4 separate regions of the Homo sapiens genome follow, and all the other regions are linked to region 3. The links come from fine-mapping of genetic effects on gene expression. A gene starts in region 3. Each other region holds a variant in brackets. All regions are shown on one strand. Distances are from middle to middle.

Region 1 (5,153 bases), 23 kb after region 3:
AGACGCCGTCTCAAAAAAGAAAAAAAAATAAGAATGCTTTGCAGGGCTCAAGTAGGTGATGAAAACGAATAAATGGTGGCTTTACTATTGGTGGCTTAGATTGGATTCTTTCCTCATAGGCACAACCTATAGGAATGTTCTTCCCATCCACAGAAAAAAGTTATCTCCTATGTTTCTTGATTCTCTCATTCTACCTTTCTCTTCCCAGTTTTGAAACAGATACAAGAAAAGGTTGACATTTCTCATAAAAGACCTATAAGACTGGCAGCAGTGTCAGTGCCAATAGTAACTGGAAATCAGCTCGGGTGCCTTGGTGTGCTGAGGCTCTCTCTGTGGCAACCAGACAGCATGTATCCTCTCTAGAGAGACAAAAGCTTCTCAGACCCAGGTGTTTTTTAGTAGGCAGGCAAGCAGACAGTTCCACTCCAGAGCCTGGACTCTTAACTGCTGTGTTATCCTGCCTGGGTTCAAGTCACACTTGGACAATGTTTTTAACATACTTCATTGTAAATGTATTGACTTTCACAGTTAATTGTTACAGCTGTAAACAAATTAGAAAGATGTCTGTACTTATCAGAACTCCTTCAGTTGCAAGTGCCATGAACCAATTCAAACTATCTGTAAAACACACATGTGTATTGGGATGTAAGGACACAATGTCAGACATGAACTAAATCTAGGGACCCAAGCAATATAATTAAGCCCCCTCTTTCCATCTTTCAGATCTTCTGTTGGTGTGTTGACCTCATCTATTTCTACAGATGAGAAGATAGCACCCCAGATACACATCCTTTCAGCCCATAAATCTCAAAATGAGGACAGGCTTCCACCCTAGCTCCAGCTGAAAAGTACCAGTGAAGGGCTTTGATTGGCTTATTTGGGGTTGTGTGTCCACCCCTGAGCCAATCACTTGACATGAGGAGCTGGATTTCTTTGATTAGCCAGGTCTAGTTTATTTATTTGTCACCATGATGTGGGGAGTAGATGGCAGAGTACTGTGACTGATAACCCCGCCATGCTCTAATAAAGTTGGATGGCTCTGGGCAATCAAAACTATAGCTGTCTCCTGTAATGTTCAATGTTATCTCCAGCTTGAAAATTAGGGAAATTAAAGAGACAAATTATAGCTTACATTGGATAACTCAAAAAGCCAAAACCAGCTTTAGGATAATCACTTTGTGTACTTAGCATATGCCTTATTGGCTATGACAAATGTCTAAATAAAAAGTGAAAAATTCATTCAATCATAAAGATGTTTCAAGATATTAATTTTGGTGTCTTACAAATATATAGGTAATTGACTGACTCTTTTTTTAAAATCTGGTTGTTTTAATACTATATAAACCCAACTTAATGCCATTCAGAATCTAGAACATGTAACCCTGAATCGTAATTACATAATTAAAAAAACATTGGATTTTAATAGGCAATTTATTGTCTTGCCATATCATGTTTCCACTCGACAAGCTAGAGCTAAACCAGAGAACTAATATAAGATAGAAAGGAGAAATTGCATTGCCATTACATTTCCATAATAGAGTTGAACAAAGAACTAAAATCAAGATATGCTTTATTTAAAAATTTGAAAATCATTGAAGTCTTTGTAAGTCTTTGCTATAATTTTCCATCACATTTAATTGGTATTTTATACAATGAAATACAAAAATGTCAACGAATTTTCTCTTCAAAGTTAATGCCTTGTCTGTTTCTCTTTCATCATATTCATTATCAATAGAGTGTGTTAAATCTCCAAATTCTCAGTTGTAATATGCTATGCAAAAGTAAAATAAACATTTAATTTTATATTGTTAAGTCAGATTTATTTCTCTACTTGCTAACAAAATAAATTTATTGAAGTTATACCATAAGCCAGGCCTTCATGCTAAGCATTGTTCACATATAACCCTTTTAATCCTCACCACAATCTTAAGAGAAAGAGACCATTTTACAGGTGAGGAAATAGGCACTGATGTAATCCTTAAAACAATCATCTGGGGTAGATAACATTTTAGTCCTCTACACTGATGAGAAAACTAAGGCTCAGAGTGGTTATGAAAATTACCCAAGTTCACAGAGCTAATAAGGGATAAAACTGAGATTTGAACTCAGGCAGTCTGGGTTCAAATCTCAGTTTTGGCCGGACATGGCGGCTCACGCCTGTAATCCCAGCACTTCGGGAGGCTGAGGTGGGTGGATCACTTGATGTCAGGAGTTTGAGACCAGCCTGGCCAACATGGTGAAACCCCATCTCTACTAACAATACAAAAATTAGCCTGGCGTGGTGGTGCGCTCCTGAAATCCCAGCTACTTGGGAGGCTGAGACAGGAGAATCACTTGAATCCAGGAGGCAGAGGTTGCAGTGAGCTGAGATTGCACCACTGCACTCCAGCCTGGACAACACAGTGAGACTCTGCCTCAAAAAAATAAAATAAAAAAAAAAATCTCGGTTTTATCCCTTATTAGCTCTGGTTTTGTGCTTACACTCTTAATCACTATTGTTTTACCTCTTCCAATTACTTAATAGTATATATAATATCAAATATACAACCTATAACCGATGGTAGTTAATGCTTAACCATAAAACATGTGTTAAACCTTGTTTTAGGATCCCCTTGGTCAAATTCTTCTCTATAGCTCTGTAGTTACCATAGCACCACTCTTCCCATATTCTCTTTTTGGAAAAAAAAAAAAAGTGGAAATAACTAATAGTAAC[A/T]ATTATTGTTTTCAAGTAAAATATGCCAAGATCTGTGTGTGCTTTTCTCAAAAAGACGAATTTCACAGTATTGCAATAATACAACATGGAATGCTTACATGTGCCTGTGGAAAAACTCTATGACCCAACTTGTGTCAGTTTCTTGTTTAATACTACAATAAAGAGCAGAGAAGGATCTGCTTATTAGGTCATTTGGACCCACCTCCAAATAGAATTAAGACTGGGACCTCTCCATAACTAATCATTTTTGCACCAAAAAGAAGGTCTCACTCCCTCTGCCTTTGAAGCAGCTGTTTGTGGGCAAAAATTCTTGTGTCTTGCGTAAGTCCCTTTCCAAAAAGTAAATGTGACACATCCAGGCTTGCTTGCATATATAAAAGTGAGGGGTGGTGGAGGGGAGGGAGACAGGGAGAAAAAGTATCACAGGCAGCAGCTAAAATCTTTGCGACTTTGTAGAGTTTGTTTAGACTTCTTTTGTGACAAGATTGCAGCCTGAAAGGGCCCCAACTGGAATGACAATTTTGTTCCAGGGAGGCCTCCTTAAGGATTAATCAAAGCACCTTAAATCCATGGGTCTTCCTACCTTTTAATGTTTTACCTATATTTCTGTTAAAAGTGAAGTTTGAAGTTAGAAACAGTGTTGGTTTCATGTTGGGATGGTATAAATTCAGAACATTTGAAGCAGTACAGGTAAATAATTCTTATTCTTTTAAATGAAACTATAATATTTTAAAGTATAAAATTTTAAAAGCATTTAATAAAACTAGTAAAAATTGTATGTGATTTATTTTAAAATTGGCATGATTTGTTTGATAAGTGCACCAATATACTTCAAATAGCATATAACCATATCCAAATATATATCAAATATGATATATTCAAGGCATATCATAAAAGTATTCTAATTTTGATTGTCACCTGATTTTAGTTTATAAAATATTTAATATATGTTCTCTTTTATTAGCAAGAAGTAAACTTATTTAATTATGATGAAAACTGTATATGTCAACTTAAATATGTGCAAGAGAACACATTTTTCAAAATTCTTATATAATATGCATAAGCTAAAAGCTTAAAGATCACTGCTCTACAGAATAAATTCCTGACTTTCAAAACCCTTCATAATCTGACCCCCTACTACCTCTTCAATTTTGGTCTTTTTCACATGTTTATGTGAGGTTTTAAAAAATCTTAGGTAAGATAAATGAAAATTTAAAAAATCATATTTACACATCTAGTGTAACTGCAGAACAGCAAAGTGAAAGAGATCTCAAAAAAAGACAGGGGGCGGGACACATTATCTTCAGAGGAATGAAAATTAGACTAAACAGCACCAGTGAAAGCCAGAAGGTGGTAAATCATATCTTCACTGGGTTGAGAGAAAATAATCTTCAACCTAAAATTGTATAGCCAGCAAAAAATCTTTCCAGAATTTGAGTTTGCCAATTTACTGAAGAAAATTCTAAAGAATATATTTCAAGCAAAAGTAACATAATTTCAAATGGAAAGTCTGAGATGCAAGAAGAAATGAGCAAAAACATGGTAAACATGTGAGTAAACATAAATCTAAACTAGATGAAACTATAACGACACCTTGTGGGGTTCAAAATCAATAAAGAATAAGTGCACATCTGCAATAACATATAAGTCAAGGGATAAATAGAAATAGAATGTTCAAATGTTCTTATGTTATTTAAGAGGGAAATAAAGGTATTGATAAATGTTAGAATTTGATAAATCAAGTAGGCAGACTAAAATGCCTTAGTCACTAAAAGAATAAGATTAGAGTGTATAACTTCCTAATTATTATAAGAAAAAACAGATGGGAGGAGAAAGATATATTCAATCAGTCTAAAAAAAGACAAGAAAAGATAGAAAAAAACACAGTGGAAGAAAAAACAAGACAAATAACACAAAATAAGATGGTAGAAATAAGCCAAAGATAGCCACAATTAATACAATTAATATATAATTATATAGTAGTAACCTATATTATGCCAGATAACACAATATATTTATTCATTCTCTTCATATAGTCCAACTAAATTACTAATAAATATCAAGGAGATAACTAGTAAAAACTCACCCATTTGAAAATTAACAAACACATTTTGAAATAGCTCAGAGAGCAAAGATGATAATGAAAACGAGAAAATATTTGTAATTGAATCATAATGAAAATACTGCAGTAGTACTCAGACAAAAGAAGAAAGTTTGAAAGTTAATGAGCCAAACACCCAGCTAAAGCAGCACAGATCCAAGGAAAGTAGAAAAAAGAAATAATTCAGTTAAGAAAACAGAAACTAATGGGAAAAATACATTAGATAAAATCAACAAAGTCAAAGTTTTCTGAAAAGATGAGTAAAATGGACAGAATTCTGGTAGCTTATCAAGAAAAAGAAAAGAGAACATCAATAAACAATACTGGGAATGAAAAAGG
Region 2 (5,153 bases), 160 kb before region 3:
GTTCTTTCTTTTGCAAAATTATTCTTCATACTGAGATTAGTATTTGCATATAGGCAACTTAGAACATTGATAAGAGGTATTTCAGGTGACAAACTTGCCTTCTTTTTAAAACATTTTATCATTTAATCACTTGTATTTTTATATAAAAAGGGGACTATCAGAATAAACAACTACTGAATGGTAATGGAGAGCTCTGAAATAATTTAATTTTAACTCTCAAGGGCTAAGAAAGTCAGTATGTTCCAGAAAATCAATCTCCTTTTGCATCTCCTTCTACTGGCTGTTTACCAATATTAAGATATTAGTAACAATAGGCTTAGTCCTTGAACAATCTGGTAGTTAATCATAGATGAAGACATATTCCTCCTTTATTTCTTTTTAAAAATAAAAGTAGCTATTATATGAACAATTTCTTTCTTTTTTTGAGACAGAATCTCGCTCTGTGATCCAGGCAGGGTAGTGCAGTGCTGCGAACATGGCTCGCTGCAACCTCTGTTTCCTGGGTTCAAATGATTCCTATGCCTCAGCCTCCTAAGTAGCTGGGATTACAGGCATGCACCACCACGCCCTGCTACTTTTTGTATTTTTAGTAGAGATGGGGTTTTGCCATGTTGGCCAGGCTCATTTTGAACTCCTGACCTCAAGAGATCTGCCCATCTGGGCCTCCCAAAGTGCTGGGATTACAGGTGTGAGCCACACTGCCCAGGCTATATGAATAATTTCTAATTGTAACAAGAAATAATGCTCATCTAGAAGACTCAAAAATTAAAAGTTTAGGAAGTAAAAACAAACAAATCCCTCTCTTAATCTCACATCCCTTTCTAATATGGTCTCTATTTTCTGCTCTCCTTCACAGTAGCTATCTCTGTTTCCTCACCTCTCATTTTCAAATCTACTCCAATCCAGGCCATGCCCTGACACTTCCATGAAGCAACTCTTATCAAGGTCACCAATGACTTTTATCTTGCCAAATCCCCCAGTCAATTCCCCATTCTCATCTTAGCTCTCTTGTTCTGCATTTGATATTCACACATTCAGTACTTTCCTCCTCCTTGAGATACTTCATCTACTGGGCTTTTGTTTTTTTCCCCTTACTTCACTGATCTCTCCTTTTTAGTTTCCTTTGATGACTCATCCTTCTTTTAAAAAATAATCAGACTTCTAAATGTGAGAATGTTTTTTTATTTATGTACACTCTCTCTTTAGGTACCCTCAACCAATCATGGCTTATAAATATGCTACCTCTCGTATATCTTCAGATCTGACCTTATCCCCGAGCTCCAGATTCACATATTCAACAACCTACCTGACATCTCCATAGGGACTAAACATGTCCAAAACACACCTGATTCCCCAAATTCACAAACGCTTCACTGCCCACAGATTATTACTCTGTCTTCTCTACCTTGGTAATAGCATCATCATCTAACTATTATACTTGTTTAACCCAAATAACCGGAAGTCATTCTTGACTCCACACTCTTCCTCCTCCCCATATCCAAATCACATGCAGTTAACTAATTCAACCAGCCCATATGTTCTTTTTCCACCTTCTTCAAATGCTTCCCCTTCTGGAGTTAAAAACAGCAAGCACTTTTAAAACCATCACAAATTATTAACTTCATCCCATATTTAACTGCTACTTTGTTTTTTTAACCAAATTTTCTCTGTGTGTGGGTGGGGTTTTTTTCCAGCCAAGTTTTATTAACATTTTTATTTAAAGTTAAATTGCAACCCTCTCAGAGAAGTATTTCTCACCTATTGATATTCCACTAGAAAGAGTAGAACTTTCAGCTTGGCCTCGAGATGGCGCATGGGGCTCCATGACGCTATCATCTAACAGATGTCTTGGTCCTGCATTTGGAAACGTTGCACTCTTAAATTCTGCTGTGTTCATTTTATGAATGAAACTAGAAACAGAAAAAAAAGTTCATATCTTTTATTATTGTTACTAATTTAAAAACTGCTCTTTATATAAAGATTTAGGACATAAAAGATTTACCTAACTGTCATACTCAGATCTTACCATAAAAGCCTCAAATGAACAGTTTAGGGAAAATGTTTTAGGAAACCTGGCCCTATCTATCTATATAATTAGAGCATACTTTAAAATAATTTCATTTTAAGCCTCGTGTCCGTTTAAAAAATTGTTTCCACATTCACTTTTGGAGAACAGTTATTACATTTCCAGAGAAATCATGGCAAAAGTGAACATGTGTCCCCATTTTGAAAAAACAATACTGCAAAACTAATGAAGTTAAACAAAAAGTCAGTTTTCTTTATATTTAGGAATAAAGAAAATAATTTTTATAGCTGTTATTTTTGACTTATTTTGGTTAAGACAAACAATGACTGTCTTGATATAAAGGTTGTAACTCTTTTAAAAAGGTATATTGCTATCCTGATTTTATTTATGATGGCCCTCTGTAATGTTCATTTATCGTCCCCAAATATAAATGCATTGTTGACAAAATCCCATTTCCAAATTCAGGTAAAGTAAGAAATAAAAGCTTTTAGGCAAACAAGGCATTTTACTGAATCAGAAAACAGCTATTAAGAAAAAAGAAAACTATTCAAGGATACCATTTTCTACTGAACTAATAAATCGACAATAAATCCAATTACAAAAGACTTAAAAATTTGAAAGATAAAATTAAAAATGCTGACTTATAACCCAAACTAT[G/A]GCACTTCCTATGTCCATGTGGAATCAGATTCCGAGGGGATGGCGGTGTCTGTGGGAGCAAGGCTCCTTCAGCTGCCACACTTTTTCGTCCACTCTGTGGAGACGCTCCTACTTCAGGACCTAAGGGTTAAATTTAAAGAGATTTTCAAATGATTACTTTATTTTTCAGTCCCTTGAAAGAAAATATTAAATGTGGTTCAAATTTTGAGATAGTACTGATGTTAGTTCTATTTAATTGGCTTGAAGATGAGAAATATATCTAAGTCCTAAAACACAAAATCCCAAACCATACAAAATCCATTAATTTTTATCTTACTTATACTAAGTAGAGGCAGTGTAAATATTTTCTCCATTTACATAGGAAGAAGTAGAATTAGAAGAGACTAGCTTTCACATCACAGACAAAATCTGGACTAAACACACAGGTCTTCTGAGTCCTAGGTTCAGTGCTCTTTTAATTTTATACATTACTTCTTTACTCCTAGTTTCAACTTCCTCTTAGATAAAGAATGTGTAGGGTAGGTCAAACACTCAAATCAGAAATTAAATCTACACTGACACTGTTCAGGCTTATGGGAATAAATAAAAGAATATTATAAAAGTGCAAAACAGCACTTTAAGAATAAAAAGAAAAGCAAATTTAAGAAATTTAAACTGCAATGTTTTTTCTGCTTGGAATATTCTTCCCCATAGACATTGTCATGGTTTGTTTCTCCACTTCACATCTTATCAGATTAGCCATCAAATATTTTTAGAATATACATGAAACTTAGTGCGAAGGCCTATATTGGGAATTTTAAAAAAGGTACTTATCAGGGATTTCTTAAATAATGATAATTTTATGTTTTTTAAAAAATTATTTGTGGTATATGCATAATATCCCCATTACAATGTAACAGGTAAAGTAAGGAACTATGATTTTTACATTTTTAATACTTGGTCTAGTATTAAAGTGAACATTTGAAAAAATTACGTCACTAAAATTGACTTCTATAATTATTCAAATTAGTAGACTTTCCCATTAGACCACAGAAATTTCTAGTGTAATCAACCTTCATTGCCTAGGACAGTGCATTCTTAATCAAAAATGAATATTCATAACTACTTATCTATTATTTTCCATCTGTTGCATCTATCTATTTTCCTTGATTAGGTAGCATACTTGTTTGTACACTACTGACAAACTATAGCAACATTTTTTTTTTTTGAGATGGAGTCTTGCTGTGTCACACAGGCTGGAGTGCAGTGGCACGATCTCGGCTCATTGCAAGCTCTGCCTCCCGGGTTCACGCCATTCTGCTGCCTCAGCCTCCTGAGTAGCTGGGACTATAGGTGCCCGCCACCACACCCGGCTAATTTTTTTGTTATTTTTTTAGCAGAGACGGGGTTTCACTGTGTTAGCCAGGATGGTCTTGATCTCCTGACCCTGTGATCCGCCCGCCTCGGCCTCCCAAAGTGCTGGGATTACAGGCGTGAGCCACCCTGCCCGGCCAGCAACTTTTAAATTAAAAACCAAAAAACCCAGAAAGGACAGATTTTAATATCAAAATAAATTTTACATGCAGTATAAGATGTACTAAGTTTTTATTTACTTTGGAGTATATTCTTCCTTATTAGGTTATCTGATTTAGATTTGGTAACAAGAGAAAACTACGTACTGACCTACTAAATCTTCTCTGGAAGCAGCAGAACGTGGGGTGCTTGTCCCTGGTTCTATCTTTAATGAAAGCCTGAATTTTAAAAAGACAAAATACATACAATGATTAATTAACATTTGACAAAATAAGATTAAAGTTGTGTATTTTCTCACAAAAAAACTAAAAACATTTTTATGAAATAATCTGACCTATATACTTTTCTTCAAGAGCAATCTTCTTCTTTTTAAGAGACAGGGAATCTCACTTAAGCCTCAAACTCCTGGGCTCAAGCGATCCTTCCATCTTGGCCTCCCAAAGTGCTGGGATTACAGGCATGAGCCACCAAGCCTGGCCAAGGGCAATTTTTAATTAAGATGTTAAGTCTCTTATCTCTTTCATACAAAGCTGATCTTATGGTTATTTTAGGAAATATTAGGAAGGGAAAATACATTAAAAAGTTGTATTTAAAAACACAAAAATCTCCCCAATTACCCCAAAGTTGCCAAACCATGGAACACATTTAAAGATATTTGATGAATGACTAAATGATGATTCAACTTAGAGCTTACACTGATACTTTACATTTAAATTCAGAAACTTTCATATGTATTATTAAATATATTATGCAAATTATTTCTAAAAACACCTTATTTAAAACTAACCATCTAACAAACCAGCTGACAGAACTCTTCAGCAGAAAGATCTATACAAATAAAAATGTTGTTTGCAAAATTCCTAGTAAGTCCCTGTCCTAAGTCAGAGTTTATTATATGGTACTTAAGTTTCATTTAGGATAATATATCCAGTTCTGAGTTTCACAGTGAAAGAGATTA
Region 3 (5,153 bases):
AGTTTGGTTTATGGTTTAAAAGTTATTTAAAAATTTCTGAAAAAGCAGATTATCAAGGAATTGGTTCACTCACAGTCAGCCAGAAATAAAAAGGTGATATTTTAAAATTTTAGACCAAAAAAGAAATTTAGATTCCCTTATAAATAAATGCCGAGAGAATATTTTCAGCAAACATTCATTTAACTACATAAACCAAAAGAATAAGGCTGTCTAACCACATGTAAACTACGCATCATCTGACTTCAGGTAGAATGTTTATCTTTGGTATACTTGGTAACCAGAAACCCAAAGTATATAAACATAGGCATATTCTAAAAACAATTGTCTTAATGTTTTTGTTCGCTAGGCAATAATTCCCACAATTCTCAGAAAGAAAAAAACAATATCCTTAACCAAAAAGTTATCAGAGGAGTTTCTACTTCTTAAACTTTTAAACAAACATATTTGCCCACTTATCATTTAAGCCCCATCAGGGCTTAAATGATAAGCCCTGTTGTGTCTCCCCTGTTGTGTCCCCAACCTCTAGGGAACTAACTGGCACCAAGTAGGTACCCAATACACATGTGCAGAATGAACTGAGTCTCTGGAAAAAGCTTAAGTGTTTTAAGTTGCAACAGGACAATTTCACCTATATATCCATCATTCACTACACTGAACTCTAATGACGTAATAAAAAGACTCGTACCAGGTATTTAAAAACACACACAAAAATATATTACTCACATATGTATCTGACTCACAAAGCCAGTTTTTCAGTTATGTTTTCTCTCAGGAAAATTTGTTGTATTCTTTCTAGTATTACTAATAAATATTAGAAAAGCACGTTGTGTTCTGCCAATGCAAGCATTATCTTCAAACTTACGTTGCAATCTGAAAAAATTTAGGCAAACTAAACAGTATTTCCAGAGTCCTGCCCCAAAGTATTACTAAAAGTCAAATTCCTTAATTCAATGAAAAGTGAAATAACGCACAGTGGCGCATGCCTGTAGTCCCAGCTTCTTGGGAGCCTGACACGGGAGGATCGCTTGAGCTCAGGAGTCTGAGACCAGCCTGAGCCAAATAAGGAGAACCTATCTTAAAAGGAAAAAAAAAAAAGTGGAATATAATGGGAAAAACGCACATCTTACCGTTCAAAAATTATGCTGAATTTTAAAAAGAAAAAATGAACTACGCTTAAAATAAATACACTGAAATTGTTTATCCCAAATGGCATTAATGCCCTTACATTTTGATATTTAGATCTGCCTCAAAAGACCTTTGAAGCTACATGATAAACTTCATGCCTACAAAGCTTGAGTTAGAGGTTATCTTTGTTAAAATAATACTGTTTGGATGCTCAGTTTTGGAAGTTTCCTCATAATTCTAAATTAAGATATTTAGCCGTAAGAGTAATACACTTATGTGTATGATTCTATAGCACTTGTTCTATAGCACTTGTACAAGCATAATGATCTTGAGTGGAACAGGCTTTATAATGAGCAAGCTATGATCTGTCTAACAGCGATACTCTGCAAACACGGGCTGAAAAGTTTCCTAAAATTCTGATGGTCATCTTCAAAGAAACTTGAACAGGAATCGATCTAATGGTGGACACAGAAAAATACCCAAGTCAACTCATGAACACTGGTAAGAAAAGGCTCTCTATAGCAACTAAAGTGTTGGGGAAAAAAAATCCAGGGAGCATAAACGATAAAGCTCAATTAACTGCTGCTTGTGTGATTCCACTTTATGGTCTTAAATACACAGTAGGCATTAGATATTTCTTTTGGGGTTTTTTTTTTTTAACAGAAATTTAGTATTTCAATTGCCCCTCCTCCACAGCTAACATCAGTGCCCTTTCTTCCTCCTCCCTTACCCCTCCCAACTCAAACAAATTAACATTTGTACTAGGTACCTCCTATCAGCTCGCAGCTTCTTCCCAAACACGCCCACGTACACTGAAACTGGCTTGCGTCTACACAACACACAGCTACAGGAAAAGAGCTTCGAGGGGGGAGCTGGGGCGGGGGGTTAATAATTCGCTCCGCACAGGTTTACGGCTATTTTCCAGAAACTAGTTCCTCGCTCGTGGCTCGCGTTTCTTCCAAATCACCTCAAAAGCACGGTGTTTATGAGCCTACCTAATCCGATACTGCAATGGAATTCCGGATATTTGCAGACAGATCTCCCGGCTTTGCAAGTGTTTGATGAGATACGTTCGGAATCTCCTTTTTTTTCTAGAGCCCGGTTCCAGGCCGTAGAGCAAGCCGACCTGGGGCTGCGGCCCCTGCCCCACACCCGGCCCGCGCGCCCGGCCCGAGGCCAGCACAGGACGCAGCCCCTCCGGGGCCGGGGCTGGCGGGGGCCGCTCGGGCTGCGGGCCGCTCTGCAACAGGTCACCCTGACCGCGACTCCGCGGGTTCGCGGGCGGCCAACTCTGCGGCCAGGCTTCTGGGCGCAGCCGCCAGGGCCAGGGGAGGGGGTGTGGCCCGGCTTCTGCTGGTCCTGGCTCCGAGGTCCGGGATCGGGCTCACCTGAAGGAAGACTGAGGCGCCGCTGGGCGCCAGAACAGAGCGGGCGGAGGCTGGGGGCTTCCGCCACCCAAGAGGGAGAGCGAGGCGGGTTCAAGGGGTCGCAGCGCCCCCGGCTTCAGGACGGCGCCCCCGAGCGGGGACCCCACGGCCGCTCCGACTCTGAGAACCCGCGGCCGAGGGAGGCGCGCCGCCCAGCGCCCTTCTCCCTCAGCCTCAGCCCCAGCTCCGCAGCCCCCTCCCTGCGCGCAGGGCGAGCAGCCCCGGGGCCCGCGGCCGGGAGAGCCACACTCCGCAGCGCCGCCGCCGCCATTCCCCGCGCCGCCCGGGGGGCGCCGCGTACCCACCCTCCCTCCCTCCCTCCCCCGCACCGCCCCGCGGCCTGAGCCCACCGACCTGTGCAGCCGCGGCCGTCGCCTCAGAGGACGGAAAGACGATGCCGGCCTCACGCTTCACCGCCACGGCCGCCGCCGCCTAGAGTAGCACTCGTCGACCCGAACAGTCACCGTCTCTCATTCAGCGCCCGCAGCAGCCGCCGCCGCCGCCGCCGCTGCCGCTCGGGGGAGGAGAGTGAGCTGGAACCACCCCGTCCGCGCCAGGGGTGGGGGACGAGAGCGGACCTGGCGGGGGCGCGCGCCAAGCGGGCGGGGCGGAGCCGCGCGCGCGCGCGCACCAACGGAGCGCGCTCGCGGGGGCTCTGAGAGCTGCAGCCGTCAGGGTCTTAACCTCGCGCTTCCCGCCCGCAGCTTTTCGGCCCCGCGGAGCCCAACTGCCGCCGGTGATCGGTGCCCGCAGCGCGCGCAGCCATCCGCAACCCCACCGCCCGGCGCCTGCTGAAAGGAGGGGCTCCCACCGGCCAAACAACGGGGGGGGGAAGGGGTAGGAGGATGGACAGGTGGGGCGTCCGCCACCGCCTGGCCACCCGCTCCCGGAACGCGGCCCTCTGTGAAATCCGCCGTGATGTCTGTGGCCTTCAGCGCCGGGCTCTTCACCTTTAAGGCCAGAGAACAAAGTCTGGAAGCACTTGGCCCCAAGATCAAATATCCAGCCCACGCCAGCGGTGTTTTTAGAAGTCACTGAGGACAAATGAGGGGGCTCCCAATGTGGAGAGTCACCCCACTGTCTTAGATAAGGTCATAAATTATGGTGATCAACATCCTCACACATTAAGATTCGGGAAGTGTTAGAAGTAGGCCTTTGTAAGATGTTACGCAGGGTACTACCCTTGACTTAAGGAGCAAATGACAGAAATTGGGCGGAAAGGTGTTGTTTCAGAGTCTACTAAATGGGTGGCCTACTTAAAGCTAGCACCATTTGATGCAGTGTGACTGTTAACGGAAGGTTTTAAGTGAGCCGCCTTTGTATCTGCTGTCATTAGACCATTTGGAAATGGATAATTATTTGATGATCTGCAGTTCTTTCTCTAGGCAATGTGCAGTAGAATGTGGAAAGAATACTATGTACCAGCATTAAGTGTAAAACATGAAAGGACCAATAATTCACTATTCCCATTTGGTTTCTTTCTTCCCTTTAATAACCGCTAAACAGAACTGATTAATCTTGAACGTTGAAGATTGCTAATTATTTCCTCCTTTGATTGCCTTCTGTCATAGCCCTTTTACTCTAGTTGGGGACGCTAGAATGCCCTTCAACCTCCTTCTCTCAAATAGGGTTACTTTAAAGCACCCCAACGCAAAGTTAAGTCAAAAAGAAAAACAGCGAGGATAGGCAACAAAGTTCGTAGTGTTTCATTTTTATTCCATTTTACTTTCAAAGAAAGTCTTGAATCATGACGAAATCACTAGAAGAAGTAGAGCAATCAAAAGAAGAAAAAAAGCGTTCCCCCCCACCCAATATTTCAAATGACAAGAGTCCAAAAAAGAAAAGAAAAAGGAAGATGATTGGTAAAAAGGAGGGAAGTGCATTATGTATACAGAAAGTTTTCGCATAGATGTTAGTTGCTTCAAGTCCCAAATAAACAACAACTAAATGAATTAGCACTTGGAGGAAAAACCCCTTCCAGTTATTGAGTTGGGTAAATGTTTAGTCTTCTTAAAGTGTTACTAAGAGATTAAGGAAAATGTCGTTGGCTATATGCCAACAATAATACATGCAACATACATACCATTATCACACATAATTAACTGCTCTTAAGAAATATGAAAACTGAGGAACGGAACTCTTATGTTGTTAAATGTCATACAATTACTTGAAACTTGAATTAGGGTTTCATAGATATAAATGAGGCAGGGTCCCTACATCTGCCAATAATTTTCACAGCTTATTGTAAAAGCAGTGAAGTTTTCACTTGGACTTTGAAAAGAAAAAAACATATGACTCATGAGCAAGGCCATGGATACACTAAATTCTTATGCCTACTGAATTTGAGTTTGAATAATTACCCCAAATCTGTTTCTCACATTGATAACTTATAAAACAATACTTTTATTAACCTTAAGAGTTGTGTTAAGTTCAAATTTGTGAACTTGGTAAGATTAAGAATTTGTATATAGGCCGGGCGTGGTGGCTCACACTTGTAATCCCAACACTTTGGGAGGCTGAGGCAGGCAGATCACCTGAGGTCAGGAGTGCAAGACCAGCCTGACCAACATGGTGAAGCTGGTCGCTACTAAAAATACAAAA
Region 4 (5,153 bases), 210 kb before region 3:
TCATGGTTCAAAGACTTGAGGAAACGGCAGGACTTTTGGATAATCTTCTCAAGCCCAGTGGAGGCTTTGCCTTGGGTGATGGATGGTGAGGAGCCACGTCAGTGGTTGAATCATTGCATTAACACGTCAAGGCTCAGGCTTTCTAGCTGGCCATTGGAACTGAGGATGTCATTAGTCTCTTAGCAAGGTTAACTTTGGGTAATACGAAGAAAAGGGATTATGAACTCTTGGAATCAGCATTCACCTTCTTAGAGAAAGAAAAGAAGGCGAAGACGAAAAAGAGTGCCTCCGATTCACGTTAGAGCTTTGAGTCCAAGAATTGTAAACATGTATAGGCTGCCAAATCTCACTCTAAATATATTCCAATGATCTCATGTTTTCATATGCAGTGGAATAAAAAGAGGCATTTTTATTCATTTTGGATGACAGCATCTTGAGCTTTTATGGGAGTGTTGTAGGAGTATTAGTTTAACCAAGAGCTGCAATCAATATTTCAACCATTCAGAGTCACCACAACAGGCACGTTAGACACTGAATGACAATTATCTTGTCATTGCAAGTTGGACCCTCAAACGTGTTCCCAAATATTGATGGCAAATCCCCCACCCCCAGGGGGAAAATCCCCCATCAAAGATCCTCTGAGGAGAGCCAAGCGAGGCACTGGAGAGAGCAGTGCACATATTTCGAGGTGATTAACATTTCGGTTTTGGCCTCCTCATCTGCAAGGGCTTCGTCTGTTACTCGTTTTCTCTTTGGCCAAAGAGACCACATCCAGTGTCCCGAAGGAGAAGGCTGGAAATTTTTCGGAAAGCCCTTTTAGGAGAAGCCCAGTGAGAGGGCAAGCAAAGCTTCATTCCTTTTATGGCCAAGATCTCACAGTGTGAGACACAAAAAAGAGAGCAAGAGCAAGAGAGCTGGAGAGCATGTTGTCTCTGTTCCTCTGCTCCCGGGGCTGTGGCGTCCACATGGTCTCCAACCTTGAGCTGAACACAGTTGATACAAAAACCAGGGACCCTTTCAGTGGCCCCTGGGGTGACGGGAGAGTCCAGCACCCCACTTCCCCTCACCCTCGGGGTTAGCCTTCACCCCGCTCTGGCATCTTCGTCCCAGCCCTGCGTGCACATAAATCAAGCAGCAGGGTAGCTCGGAAACATGACGAATACCTTGGCTGGCTCCTGCTTGAAAAGACAAGGGGGGAGAAGAGGGATTCTAAAGTAACCCGGCCTTGACTGGAAACGCAGCCAGAATTTAGTGTTCCTGGAGCTGGCCCCAGCTGCTCAGACAGGAGCTGCCAGGGGAGACTTCCCTGGGGGCAGCCCCAGCCCTCCACGCTCTGGAGGAGGAAAAAGCTTTGGTGTCTGTCAAGAACATTATTCAAAAATTCTTGGACACTTCTAAGCCCTTTCTGTGAGCATGGAGACAGGGGGTTGAGGGAAGCTTTGCCTAGGCTGGGATGGCACTTGGGTATAGCCCCAGGTTTGAGTGCTGCTGTATTCATGGACAGTGCCCCAGAGGTGGGTGTGTGATGCCTGTGTGTGTGTGCATGTGCATGCGTGTGCATGTATGTAGGGGACCGGTGAGGCAAGACAGCCCACTTAAGGACACGGTTTTAAGTACACTGCCAGCTTTCAGTCTGGGGGCCTGTGAATGTTGTGGCTGTTGGCTTCTCCCTTTCTCTGTTTCCCAGTTCCACCAGCTCCCAGTGTCTCTGGTCTCTCCATTCATTCTTTTCAGTGGGTCAGGCCCCTGCTGGAATGACTCTTCAAGAGTCTGCTCTGCCCACCCTGACCAGGGGCTCCCAGTAGGGAAAGCCGAGGGTTCTAGGCGTTGCCCTCCTGCCTCCTCTGTCTGCCAGGACCACTGCAGGGGGCTCCTGAGTGTCCTGGCTCTCCTGTGAGGTGCCACAGAGGCAGGACTGCGTAAGGGACTAGTTCAGCCTTCAAGGAGCTTCAGTCGAGAGATTCTCTTTGTTTTGTTCTTGAGGGTCATGAAGAGATCATTCCAGCTGTCACCGACAAGAGATTCTGGGAGGCACCTGAACACAGTGGAGGGCCACAGAGAGTCTTCTTCCACAGAGAGCTCTGTAGGGATGAGGCCTCAGATGTGACAGGCTCTGAGCACGGGAGTATTAGAGGCTGAGAAGGGCTGCCTCCCTAAAAAACATTAATCGTGTTAAAATATTCACTGCCCTCTCCAAAATCTCAACACTTAAAAGCATTTTTTACGTTTCTTTTCTTTTCTTTTTTTTTTAAAGGAAGAAGCACCGTGGGGACTCTCACTGCAAAGAAGACAGACCATTATCAACACTCCTCCCCTCTGTTCCCCAAAGTCCCCTCCTGACCGCAGCATCAATCTTCCACGCTGGCCGGCCGGTAATTAGCTTTCCTCAGGGCAGGGGCAGATCACCAGCTCAGGCCTCCATCCAGGGGTTTCCTGTCCCCAAAGTTGCACTAATGCAAATCCATTTTTCATTAGGAGAAAATAAAACTCACAAGTGACATCAACTGAAAAATGTTTTTTGAGAGCAAGTTATTTCCATTTAAAGCTAAGCACATGACAGCTGGTGACTTTTAATGGAAAGTAAAATTTGCTGGGCTGAATTACTATCAAACCACTTGAGAATTTGTTTCTAATTTTCCTTTTTGGAGGAAGGCAGTGCTCTGGAGTCCAGCAGAGCAGATGAGGAATGGAAAGGTCTGGTCTCATCTCTAATTGCGGCCTCAAAAGACCCTGGACAATCCTCAGTAAAATCATGTCCCAAGATTTAGTTACATTAATTTTCTTTACTCTGTACTTGAAACTCATTTAATAAGCTGGTTAGAAAACAAACTTTCTGTACCACCTTTTGTTTGGGCCCCCAAAACCAAAATGGTTGTATGTGTACTGAAAACTATCTACGGTTGGCCAGGCGCGGTGGCTCACGCCTGTAATCCCAGCACTTTGGGAGGCCGAGGCGGGTGGATCATGAGGTCAGGAGATCGAGACCATCCTGGCTAACAAGGTGAAACCCCGTCTCTACTAAAAATACAAAAAATTAGCCAGGCGCGGTGGCGGGCGCCTGTAGTCCCAGCTACTCGGGAGGCTGAGGCAG[G/A]AGAATGGCGTGAACCCGGGAAGCAGAGCTTGCAGTGAGCCGAGATTGCGCCACTGCAGTCCGCAGTCCGGCCTGGGCGACAGAGCGAGACTCCGTCTCAAAAAAAAAAAAAAAAAAAAAAAAAGAAAACTATCTACAGTTTCTCCACTTAATAGAAAATATCTGGTATAGCAGAACCTGGTGGGCATTTGCTATGGACTGAATGTGCCCCTGCCATTCATATACTGAAGCCCTAACCCCCAGTGTGATGGTATTTATTAGGAGGTGGTGCCTCTGGCAGATTTAAATGAGAGCATGAAGGTGGGACCTCCATTACTGGATTAGTGTCCTTATAAGAAGAGGAAGAGACCAGAGCTCACTCTCCCCACCACGTGAGGATACAGTGAGAAGGTGGCTGTCTGCAAGCCAAGAGCCCTCACCCAAACAGAATCTGCTGGTATCTTGATGTTGGATTTTCTAGCCTCCAGGACTGTGAGAAATAAATGTGTGTTGTTTAAACCACCCAGTCTATGGTATTTTGTTATAGTAGCTAGGGCTGACTACAACTGAAGTAGGCTAGAAGGAACTCTGTTATCATGAGCTCCAGGGATGAGCTGTCTATACACTTGTGCTGCATCAGACATGAAAGAGGAGTGGTGTGAGACTTGCTTTTCTGTGCATCCTGTTTCAGAGCAATATAAATTCAGTTCCTCTTATCTTCCAGAATCTTCTAGCACTTCTGGAATCTATAACATATGTCTGTATGGATAATAGCACCTCTGGAATTTGGGGACAAGGTCAAAGGGTGTCGGGATTTGAAGGGGAAGCCATAAGAATCTTCACAATATAAATTGAGATTAAACACTTGCAGATGCAACCCATCCTTGGGGTGGTTTTGCAAACATATTGCTGAGGATTTCATGGTTTGCTACATCAAGATTAGATACCCAAAGTTTATTGGAAGATTAAATTACAAAAAGTAATGACAAGGTAAGTTGTAATAAGTCATGTTATTTGATGAGAAGTAAAGATAATTAAAGGCATGAAAGAGTCTGTAAGGAGCCTAGAAGAAGAGAGGTGAAGAGTAAGAATCTAGCTAGTGTTTCCCCAGGGGTGTCAGGGAATGGCAAAAATGTTCCAGACTGTACCAACGATCTGAGCCACACACTCCTGAAGACTTCTTTTACCCTGATTCCTGTTTAACAAGTAGTTTTCTAAATGCTAATTCAGTTTTTCTGGTACACAGCAGAAAGGGGTCCCCTGCATAGTAATTAGAAAGGTGTGTCTCTGATGGTACATTACTTCAACTGGCATGCTGGTTTTCCCGTCAGTCTACTATGGGAGTTTGGTTGGCAAGAGTCCATTCCTTGAGGCCTGGTCAACGTTGTGTGGGCTGATTACAACATGGGGTTTCTGAAACTTAAAAGTTAAGGGCCCGATCTGGACCCAGGCCTCTACCAAGCCACAGATGACCTTTGAGGCTCCGCTTGATCAGGCAGCCAGCCATGGAACATCATCATGTGGCAACTCCACACCCACAGCTATCATGGCTCCCACTTGCGGACACATTACTTTGTATGTATTTTGTCTTTCTTAAACAACTCCTTGCTCCCATTTCTTCTCCCTCAAATTGTGAGATTTTCTGCTGCAGGGCCTTGTCTCTCCTCTTTCATACATTAAATGTGTAAGATCTTGACCACAGGGACACTCAATATATTGAATGACTTTGTTGGCAAAGATATTTGAAAAGATGATAGGTGCAAATATAATTTATTTATCTTCTTTGGAATCCAGCTGTAAAATACATAGTTAAAATAGAAGCTAAAATGTTCTGTTGTTTGATCTTCAGCTTCTGTCTAAATTGAATTGACTCTCCATCCCATCCTACTTCCTTAGAGACAGACAAGAAACTCCTGTCACCATGCTTTTCTGTACTCTGTCCTACGACTTTGCTTCCATTTAATTTGTCCTCTACTTGTCATTAAGATGTTATTTGGGGCTGATTAGAGTTTGCACCTGTTTCAGTTTATTCCCAATTATATAGTTATAGGTAATCATTATAGCCAGCCACCATTATGGAACT

Alleles and levels. Alleles are on the strand shown, and positions count from the first base shown. SD is a standard deviation of normalised expression in the study named. Not every link is listed here.
In carriers of allele T in region 1, the expression in skeletal muscle of the gene that starts at base 3,082 in region 3 tends to be higher than with A alone (moderate effect, 0.44 SD a copy in GTEx).

What was found. PIP is the estimated chance that this variant, and not a neighbour inherited with it, causes the effect.
Region 1: its variant is fine-mapped to the expression of RALGPS2 in skeletal muscle (GTEx, PIP above 0.99).
Region 2: its variant is fine-mapped to the expression of RALGPS2 in whole blood (TOPMed, PIP above 0.99).
Region 4: its variant is fine-mapped to the expression of RALGPS2 in whole blood (TOPMed, PIP above 0.99).

Annotation. Positions count from the first base shown.
Region 1 is chr1:178,700,232-178,705,384 of GRCh38, reverse strand. No RefSeq gene overlaps it. Among named protein-coding and RNA genes, the nearest start is that of RALGPS2, 22 kb to the left of the region's middle. The variant A/T (reference allele first, on the strand shown) is at 2,714.
Region 2 is chr1:178,882,726-178,887,878 of GRCh38, reverse strand. It overlaps RALGPS2 (Ral GEF with PH domain and SH3 binding motif 2), which reads right to left. Exons shown (of 20, transcript NM_152663.5): 11 at 4,346-4,413; 12 at 2,668-2,803; 13 at 1,759-1,910. Among named protein-coding and RNA genes, the nearest start is that of ANGPTL1, 14 kb to the right of the region's middle. The variant G/A (reference allele first, on the strand shown) is at 2,684.
Region 3 is chr1:178,723,173-178,728,325 of GRCh38, reverse strand. It overlaps RALGPS2 (Ral GEF with PH domain and SH3 binding motif 2), which reads right to left and starts at 3,082. Exons shown (of 20, transcript NM_152663.5): 1 at 2,907-3,082. It overlaps RALGPS2-AS1 (RALGPS2 antisense RNA 1), which reads left to right and starts at 2,042. Exons shown (of 1, transcript NR_187252.1): 1 at 2,042-5,153. RefSeq lists silencers at 2,273-2,502, 2,703-2,822, 3,083-3,252, 3,154-3,308 and an enhancer at 2,143-2,732.
Region 4 is chr1:178,935,178-178,940,330 of GRCh38, reverse strand. LOC102724754 (a long non-coding RNA gene) reads left to right here and starts at 1,260. Exons shown (of 3, transcript XR_426873.4): 1 at 1,260-1,514; 2 at 2,255-2,372; 3 at 3,353-3,432. RefSeq lists an enhancer at 662-1,161. The variant G/A (reference allele first, on the strand shown) is at 3,092.